Linked DNA regions of Homo sapiens. The protein of the gene in region 1 interacts with the protein of each later gene in a pairwise test. Each region holds a gene or a part of one and is shown in the gene's direction. Other genes may lie near its edges.

Evidence for each region.
Region 2: the proteins of SUV39H1 (region 1) and PADI6 interact in binary tests that used the Homo sapiens proteins (3 or more experiments, as listed by UniProt).
Region 3: the proteins of SUV39H1 (region 1) and TRIM41 interact in binary tests that used the Homo sapiens proteins (3 or more experiments, as listed by UniProt).

Annotation. Positions count from the first base shown.
Region 1 is NC_000023.11:48,706,625-48,709,561, forward strand, and holds the end of SUV39H1 (histone-lysine N-methyltransferase SUV39H1), read left to right. Parts: coding exon 1-3; intron 4-812; coding exon 813-946; 3' UTR 947-2,392; downstream 2,393-2,937. UniProt on the Homo sapiens protein: Histone methyltransferase that specifically trimethylates 'Lys-9' of histone H3 using monomethylated H3 'Lys-9' as substrate. Also weakly methylates histone H1 (in vitro).
Region 2 is NC_000001.11:17,396,145-17,399,300, forward strand, and holds part of PADI6 (inactive protein-arginine deiminase type-6), read left to right. Parts: intron 1-926; coding exon 927-997; intron 998-2,541; coding exon 2,542-2,703; intron 2,704-3,156. UniProt on the Homo sapiens protein: Structural constituent of cytoplasmic lattices, which plays a key role in early embryonic development. Cytoplasmic lattices consist in fibrous structures found in the cytoplasm of oocytes and preimplantation embryos.
Region 3 is NC_000005.10:181,226,281-181,229,934, forward strand, and holds part of TRIM41 (E3 ubiquitin-protein ligase TRIM41), read left to right. Parts: intron 1-3,654.

The DNA of each region.
Region 1 (2,937 bases):
AAGGTGGGGGTGGCAAGGGACTGGGGGCAGGGGCGCACTGTGACTTGGGACACAAGGACCCCTCCCAAAGGCACACCAGTCACTCAGAGAACCAAGGAAAATTCTTTAGCGGGAGCTTTAAGATGCTCTTCCTGACTCCCAGTCCCCCATTCGGACTACTAGACCCCTGCCTACCCCTCGAGTCCCCTCATTCCCAGCCCCTGAACCCTAACCCTGAGGCATTCATACCAACTTCTCCCAAGATTCCTGGAGAGTTAAGAAACTCCTGACTCCAGTCTTGACTGAGTTTCCCTCATCCCCCAGCCCCTCCCCACTCCTAGCTCCCTTTGGCCTTCTTCATCCCAAGCCTCTGGACACCCTTGTGGCCTCCAGCCAGTCCCCTCCTTGATAAGCTAGCCACCTCTGAGACCCTCAAGGGCAGGTCTTTGGCAGGAGAGTTCAGATGTACCTCTGGATGCCCAGGTGGCCCTCTATTCCTGCCCCTGCCCCCCCCCACACACCTAAAACGACCCTCCTGGTTCCTTGACGGCTCCCTGCCTCCCCCAGCATTCTTCAACCCCTGGCCTGAACAACCTCCAGTGCTGAGCCCTGGCCCTAGCCCCAAACCACCAACCCTAAGATCTCCCAACTCAAATCCCAGAGTTGCTCCCAGCCCCAAAGATCCTTGGTCTCATGGTATAAAGGGTAGTGGGACCCTTCATCCAGGCCTTCTAACAAGTCCCCTGCCTCCTTCCCTACCTTCCTCCCTCCCTCCTTCTCCCCCTCCCTCCCTGCCTCCTTCCCTCCTCTCCTCCCTGGCTGTGACTCCACAGTGGACCCCGTGGACATGGAGAGCACCCGCATGGACTCCAACTTTGGCCTGGCTGGGCTCCCTGGCTCCCCTAAGAAGCGGGTCCGTATTGAATGCAAGTGTGGGACTGAGTCCTGCCGCAAATACCTCTTCTAGCCCTTAGAAGTCTGAGGCCAGACTGACTGAGGGGGCCTGAAGCTACATGCACCTCCCCCACTGCTGCCCTCCTGTCGAGAATGACTGCCAGGGCCTCGCCTGCCTCCACCTGCCCCCACCTGCTCCTACCTGCTCTACGTTCAGGGCTGTGGCCGTGGTGAGGACCGACTCCAGGAGTCCCCTTTCCCTGTCCCAGCCCCATCTGTGGGTTGCACTTACAAACCCCCACCCACCTTCAGAAATAGTTTTTCAACATCAAGACTCTCTGTCGTTGGGATTCATGGCCTATTAAGGAGGTCCAAGGGGTGAGTCCCAACCCAGCCCCAGAATATATTTGTTTTTGCACCTGCTTCTGCCTGGAGATTGAGGGGTCTGCTGCAGGCCTCCTCCCTGCTGCCCCAAAGGTATGGGGAAGCAACCCCAGAGCAGGCAGACATCAGAGGCCAGAGTGCCTAGCCCGACATGAAGCTGGTTCCCCAACCACAGAAACTTTGTACTAGTGAAAGAAAGGGGGTCCCTGGGCTACGGGCTGAGGCTGGTTTCTGCTCGTGCTTACAGTGCTGGGTAGTGTTGGCCCTAAGAGCTGTAGGGTCTCTTCTTCAGGGCTGCATATCTGAGAAGTGGATGCCCACATGCCACTGGAAGGGAAGTGGGTGTCCATGGGCCACTGAGCAGTGAGAGGAAGGCAGTGCAGAGCTGGCCAGCCCTGGAGGTAGGCTGGGACCAAGCTCTGCCTTCACAGTGCAGTGAAGGTACCTAGGGCTCTTGGGAGCTCTGCGGTTGCTAGGGGCCCTGACCTGGGGTGTCATGACCGCTGACACCACTCAGAGCTGGAACCAAGATCTAGATAGTCCGTAGATAGCACTTAGGACAAGAATGTGCATTGATGGGGTGGTGATGAGGTGCCAGGCACTGGGTAGAGCACCTGGTCCACGTGGATTGTCTCAGGGAAGCCTTGAAAACCACGGAGGTGGATGCCAGGAAAGGGCCCATGTGGCAGAAGGCAAAGTACAGGCCAAGAATTGGGGGTGGGGGAGATGGCTTCCCCACTATGGGATGACGAGGCGAGAGGGAAGCCCTTGCTGCCTGCCATTCCCAGACCCCAGCCCTTTGTGCTCACCCTGGTTCCACTGGTCTCAAAAGTCACCTGCCTACAAATGTACAAAAGGCGAAGGTTCTGATGGCTGCCTTGCTCCTTGCTCCCCCACCCCCTGTGAGGACTTCTCTAGGAAGTCCTTCCTGACTACCTGTGCCCAGAGTGCCCCTACATGAGACTGTATGCCCTGCTATCAGATGCCAGATCTATGTGTCTGTCTGTGTGTCCATCCCGCCGGCCCCCCAGACTAACCTCCAGGCATGGACTGAATCTGGTTCTCCTCTTGTACACCCCTCAACCCTATGCAGCCTGGAGTGGGCATCAATAAAATGAACTGTCGACTGAACAAACCAAGATGTGAGGTGCTTGTGTGGGTGGGGGTTGAGGGGATAGAGGCTGGGAGCTGGGTTTGCCCAGGAACATGTTCCTCAAACCTCAGCCATTTGACTCTAATCCTCACAATTTCAGCCCCCACAGCATATCACTTACACCATCATCTATATAACATCTTGACCTAAAATAAGTTTGTTTTATACTTAAACTTTAAAATGCACTTAAGGCTGGGTGTGGTGGCTCACATCTTTAATCCCAGCACTTTGGGAGGCCGAGGCAGGCAGATCGCTTGAGCTCAGGAATTCGAGACCAGCATGGGCAACATGGTGAAACCACGTCTCTGCTAAAAATACAAAAATTGGCCAGGTGTGGGGGCATGTGCCTGTACCTGTAGTCCCAGCTACTCAGGAGCCTGAGGTGGGAAGATTGCTTGAGCCTGGGAGGTGGAGGTTGCAGTGAGCTGAGATCTCACCACTGCACTCCAGCCTGTCTGTCTCCAGAAAAGAGCCAAACCCTGTCTCAAAACAATGCAATTAAATTGACTGGTTTAGACTGGCCGTAA
Region 2 (3,156 bases), on another chromosome or scaffold:
GGAGGCTGAGGCGGGCAGATCACCTGAGGCCAAAAGTTCGAGGCCAGCCTGGCCAACATGACGAAAGCCCATCTCTACTAAAGATACGAAAATTAGCCGGGCATGGTGGTGCATGCCTGTAATCTCAGCTACTCGGGAGGCTGAGGCAGGGGAATCGCTTTAACCTGGGAGGTGGAGGTTGCGGTGAGCTAAGATCGTGCCATTGCACTCCAGCCTGGGCCACAGAGCAAGACTCCATCTCAAAAAATAATAAAGGCTGTAGGAACCCAGAAAGGGGCTGGGGGTATTAGGTTTTTCTAGACCCTCAATACTCAAAGTGTTATCTGAGGGCCAGCGCACCTGGGAGCTTGTTAAAAATGTAGAATTTCCACCCTGCTCCACACCTCCTGGATACTCAGCCTTTGGGGTTGGGGCCCGGGAACTCCTGGTCATAGAAGCACCATGGAAGGTGACATCTGCTGAGCATGAACCACATGACAAAGACTATCACCTCAGAGCTGGCAAATAAATTGGGCATCCCTGTCCCAAAGATCAGGCAATTGAGGAACAAAGGTAATGTAACCTGGAGAGGGTCACAGGCAGAAAGTGCCAGGTTGTATTGGCATAAGGGGAGTAGGGGCTGAAGTCATCCTAACAAGCTCTAGGCTGTGTCCCTCAGCCTGGCACAGGCTATTCCCCCTCATGCTGGGGACAGAGTGGCCAGTGGCAGTAAGTCCTGCCTGGGAGTTCTGGTGTAGACCCTGGTCAGTCCCCAGAAGGAAGATATTGGACCTGAGGGTGTGATCCCTGGAGATAGGCCAGTCCTCTCGCCATGGTCACTGGCCCAGGAATGCACCCAGGTGGCTGGGCCTGGCCCGAGTGTGCCCAGCTCTGGGCAGTGCTGCCATTCCCTGACCAGCAGGCCTGCTGCCCGCTTCTTCCTACAGGAAGGGAAGCCAAAACCATCGACCAACTTCTGGCTGATGAAAGCCTGAAGAAGCAGAATGAATACGTGGAGGTAGGACCAGTGTGAAGGGGGCCATCCCCAAGAAAGAGCTGGTGCCGCAGGTCTTGCAGGAAGGTTTCCACCCACCCCTCCTGAGGGGTGAAGTGTTGGGCGGCGGGGGGCAGCTGCCTGCCACCCTTTCTTCCAGGTCTTGATACAGGCCCAGGTCTGGGGCTAGAGCTGGCCATATGCCAATGTAGGGAGACTAGAGGAGTAAGGAGTTAGGTCTCTGGAGTCAAACACAGCACGATGTACCTTTATGCTTGGAAGAGGGCTGGAAGTGGGTAACACAGCTTTCTATGGTGTCAGATGGCTGAGGACCCAGGGTGGGACAGGGGCAGGGAGGAGCGCCATGGCATGTCGGGACCGTTGACAGATATTACTTGCAGATACTGTCAGAGGGAGTTTACTTTGCTATGACTATGCAGCTGGATCTTTTCCCCCAAGCTGGGAAAGCCCTGATTATCCAGGTTCCTAGCTGAGAGCCAATGATGGCCCAAGCATTTTGCGAGATACCTCACTACAAACCCTGCAGATAGCCCTATAAAACTACAAACCCTGCAGATAGCCCTATAAAGTAAAACACCTCTTACATATGAGGGTAGTGAGGCACACAGTAAAACCGCTAGCCCAGGACAATCATTTGGGAAAATGAGTCTGAACTCCCAAGTTCATGTGTTGCTCATTATACTCAAGCTGCCTGGGGTCCATTTCCCGGAAAATGACATAGCTCCGCAGCCTCCTTGAAGAAGCCGGCTCCTCACTTCCGAGAAGCTGAGTATCAGACTCAAATAGACGAGGGACTACTCAATGCTTTCTGGATGAAGTGGCCCATCACAGCAGTCCCGAGGATGGTGTTCAGGGTCACCAAACTTCAGAGATCTTAGAAGTGAATCATTGGCTATAAGAAGCAGAGTCTCCCCAACTTGTAGAAGGAGAAGCTTAGGCCCAGAGAAGGGTAATTTCTTGGCTGAGGTTGCATGGTCAGCAAAACTGCTTCTCTCACTGGGTCCTTAACATTCCCAGGAATGTTCCCAAGGAATGTTCTATGCCCCGCACAGTGCATGGGTACCCTGTTTTGCAAGAACAGCCCCCCTGGCATAGCAGGGTGGGTGCCAGCCAGGCATGGGGCTGAGACAGCATCTCCCAGCCCCTGGCGACAGCTTAGGTGTGTTGGGTATGTGTCTGAAGCCTATTTCAAGACCTAGGGAGACAGGTGTGTTGGGTTATGTCTGAAGCCTATTTCAAGACCTAGGGAGATGCCTGGGTATTGGGCTCAGCTGGTCTGGGTTGAGAAGTGCCAGACGCTGTCTAGCCATGGGATCCTGGACTAAAGACTAGGCCATTCCTGAGCCCCTACTTCCCCATGTGAAAAGGGAACTGCCTATTTCGTAAGGCTGGTATGAAGTGTGAGGCTCCTGGCACACAGCAAGTGATGGGGATGGTAGTGGTGTCAGGCCATCACCTACCTTCAGTATGGAAGGAAACTGGTTTTAATTCCTGATGAGCTCTCCTTGCTCCCCCGCCCCCCCCCCCACCCACCCACCCACCCACAGAAGTGCATTCACCTGAACCGTGACATCCTGAAGACGGAGCTGGGCCTGGTGGAACAGGACATCATCGAGATTCCCCAGCTGTTCTGCTTGGAGAAGCTGACTAACATCCCCTCTGACCAGCAGCCCAAGAGGTCCTTTGCGAGGCCATACTTCCCTGACCTGGTGAGGGGCGACTGCGCATCCCTGGGTGGGGGAGGGCCTGTCCAGGCAACACTGGCTGCCACCTCACTGTGCTGGACTGCAGATATGGTGGACAGCAGATAACGGTACCTATGAGGAAATGGGAGGGAGACCCCTTCTCCCCCATCTCGGTTAGGGACGCCCCACCCAGAGAGCAAGTGTACAGGGCCTGAAGGCTTGGAGGTTCCCCAGGCAGTTACTATGGGCCAGGCCCTGGGCCAGGTGCTTTAGGAGCCTCAGTGAGCTGCGCCCCCAGTCTAAAAGGGTGAACCTGTGAGGCCCACTTCGGATGGGGTGCTATGCAACCCAGAGTCGAGGTTGCCGCGCATCTGCCAGCAGCGAGGCCTTGAGCAACCTACCTCAGGGTGGGTCTTCCTGTCCGCTATCTCCAGGGTCCAGGGCAGCAGTGTCTGATACATAGAGGTACATCAGCCC
Region 3 (3,654 bases), on another chromosome or scaffold:
TTTTAGTAGAGATGGGGTTTCACCGTGTTGGCCAGGCTGTTCTGAAATTCCTGACCTCAGGTGATCCGCCTGTTTTGGCCTCCCAAAGTGCTGGGATTACAGACATGAGCCACTGTGCCTGGCTACACAAAGATTGTTAAACCTGCCTGATTGTTGGAATTACTAGGGGAGGTTTTCAAAAATACAGTGGATCCTACCACTAGAGTTTCTGAATCAGTGAGTAGGAGAATATCTTTAAAAAGCCCAGTCTAGCATGGGGATCACTGCATTGGTAACATTGCCTAGCTGTTAGTCCCTGCATTTTTAGCAGAGATTGTGAGGTCCTGTTGTCCTTTCCATCTCCTCAGTTCCTAGTTAACCATACCCATCATATCATGTGTGGTCACTTTGTGAACAGGAACCCAGGCCAAACTATCCATGGGCATTCCACCCTTTCTCTTTCACCTCCCCCTGTAGGACTGCTCCAAGGAGCTTCTGAAACTGGATTTTAATTTGCATTAGCCAAATTTGTTCAATGCCAGCTGCCTGAAATCCCGTATTAGGTCCTGAAGTAGGTGAGGAATTAAAAAAAGTCATAATCTCTTTTCTTTTCCCCCCTTTTTTTTTTTTTGAGACAGAATTTCACTCTTGTTGCCCAGGCTGGAGTGCAATGGCACAATCTTGGCTCACCGCAACCTCTGCCTCGGATTCAAGCGATTCTCCTGCCTCAGCCTCCCGAGTAGCTGGGATTACAGGCATGTGCCACCACACCTGGCTAATTTTTTGTATTTTTAGTAGAGACGGGATTTCTCCATGTTGGTCAGACTGATCTCGAACGCCTGACCTCAGGTGATCCGCCCAACTTGGCCTCCCAAAGTGCTAGGATTGCAGGCGTGAACCACTGCGCCTGGCCATACTCTCTTTTCTTGATCTGTTTACTGCGCTCTGCAGTTTGGGAGGCCATATACACATATTTAATCTGACATTAAGTGATGAGTAAATGTAAATACATAGTTTTATTGTATAGGACTAATTTGAGTGATTCCCTTTCTGACTTAATAGGCTATTTTACAAGTGGGTCATTTATTTTTTTATTTTTATTTTTTTTGAGATGGAGTCTCGCTCTGTCGCCCAGGCTGGAGTCCAGTGGCGTGTTCTCGGCTCACTGCAAGCTCCGCATCCCAGGTTCACGCCATTCTCCTGCCTCAGCCTCCCAGGTAGCTGGGACTACAGGCGACTGCCACCACGCCTGGCTAATTTTTTTGTATTTTTAGTAGAGACAGGATTTCACCATGTTAGCCAGGATGGTATCGATCTCCTGACCTTCTGATTTGCCCGTCTCGGCCTCCCAAAGTGCTGGGATTACAGGCGTGAGCACCGCGCCCAGCCACAAGTGGGTCATTTATTCTTTTCAGATATGTACATGCAGTAACCAGTAGCTTGGCAAAATGTTTTGTAAAAATTTTTTTTGTTGAATAGGTAATAACACACAAATGATATGTAAATATAGTTCCTGAACAGTTACATGTTTGTTTTGTTTTTTTTGAGACAGGGTCTCACTCTGGCCAGGCTAGAATGCAGTAGCATGATCATAGCTCACTGCAGCCTTGACCTTCTGGGTTCAGGTGATCCTGAGTAGTAGCTGGGACTGGAGGTGTGTGCCATCATGCCCAGCTAATTTTTTTTTTTTTTTTTTCGTGGAGACAGGGTCTTGCTGTGTTGCTCAGGCTGGTCTTGAACCACTGGCCTCAAGCAATCTTCCCATTTTGGCCCCTCAAAGTGCTGGGATTACTGTGTCTGCCCGACAGTTAAATGTTTTGAAAGTTGGCCGGGCATGGTGGCGGGTGCCTGTAGTCCCAGCTACTCGGGAGGCTGAGGCAGGAGAATGGCGTGAACCCGGGGGCGGTGGAGCTTGCAGTGAGCTGAGATCACGCCACTGCACTCCAGCCTGGACAACAGAGCGAGACTCTGTCTCAAAAAAAAAAAGAAAAAATGTTTTGAGAATTTCTCTTATAACTGGCTGGCTGTGGTGGCTCACGCCTGTAATCCCAGCACTTTGGGAGGCTGAGGCAGGTGGATCACTTGAAGTCAGGAGTTCAAGACCAGCCTGGCCAACATGGTGAAATTCCGTCTCTACTAAAAATACAAAATTAGCCAGCATGATGGCATGTGCCTGTAATCCCAGCTACTCGGGAGGCTGGGGCAAGAGAATCGCTTGAACCTGGGAGGCAGAGGTTGCAGTGAGCCAAGATTGTGCTACTGCATTCCAGCCTGGGCAACACAGCGAGACTCCCATCTCAAAAAAAAAAAAAAAAAAAAAAAGGAAATATATCTTAAATAGAACTCTGTTTGAATTTGTGCTTATTAATTTTTGTTTTTGTCAGCAATTTAGGGTCCCGGCACGGTGGCTCACACCTGTAGTCCCAGCACTTTGGGAGGCAGAGGTGGGCAGATCACTTGAGGGCAGGAGTTAAGACCAGCCTGGCCAACATGGTGAAACCCTGTCTCTACTAAAAATACAAAAATTAGCCAGGTGTGGTGGTGGGCACCTTTAATCTCAGCTACTCGGGAGGCTGAGGCAGGAGAATTGCTTGAACCCAGGAGTTGGATGTTGCAGCGAGCCGAGATGGCACTGCTGCACTCCATTCTAGGCGACAGAGCAAGACTCTGTCTCAAAAAAAAAAAAAAAAAAAAAAAAACAGTAAATGGTAAATTTAAGCGTTATAAATTCTGAATTAATGGAGAAATTATTGACTAGAAAAGTAGAAAGTTATATCAGAAGGCCAAATTTTGTGTAGTTCATGCTATTGTCACGAGTTGACTATAATTCCATTATTACTGTAATTTTGTCTACAACCACTTATCCTGTGCAGCAACTGCTGTTTGCACTCTGGCTTGGTAAACTCTTTAGTTCAGGGGTCATTATCAGGATGTCACTGGCAGCTTAAGGTATAGGGAACAAATATTAGATAACATTTACTGATCTTCTGCTACATGCCAGGCACTGCAGTAAGTGTGCTATCCATGAGGTCCATTCTCTTCTTATTTGAAGCTGAGGAAACTGAAAGCATGGCTTGCCTGAGGTCACTTCACTTCCCTCTGGTCCTGACTGGAGTCAGGCTGGAGCTCTCCTACCCTATATTCTCTCTCAAAGAAAAGGAGACAGGCTAGTAGAAGACATAGAAAAGGTAAGAGCAAATAGGTAGGGCTTATTCCACTCATTCTGGGCTAACAGCCCTTTAAAGAAAAGTATTTGGCTACAAATTGTAGAAACACAGAGCTCGTGTGCCTATTGGCTATAACAGTTACAACCTTTGGAAGAGGGGTTTCGGTGTCCTTTGCCATTTAGCAAGTAATTGAGCAGGAGAGAAAGCAGATGAGCAGAAAGAAGCAAAGAAGTTGAAATAAGTAGAGTGTGGGCAGGGACTCCGCAGTGTCCTGGAGGAGGCACACCTGTCATTGGTGCCCTGGGAACTCATGTATTAGATATTTCTTGGGATCACAGAGGATGTTGGGGGTGGGGAGGATCAGGGCCATTTTCAGGGAGCTGTTTTAAAGGAAGAATACCTTGGGCCAAGTGGAGAAAGGCACTCCCAGACAGAGGGAACAGCATGGAATTATACTCAGGAAATGACAAGTAATTTTATGTGGTCAAACGTGTTAAGAGTCTGTGTG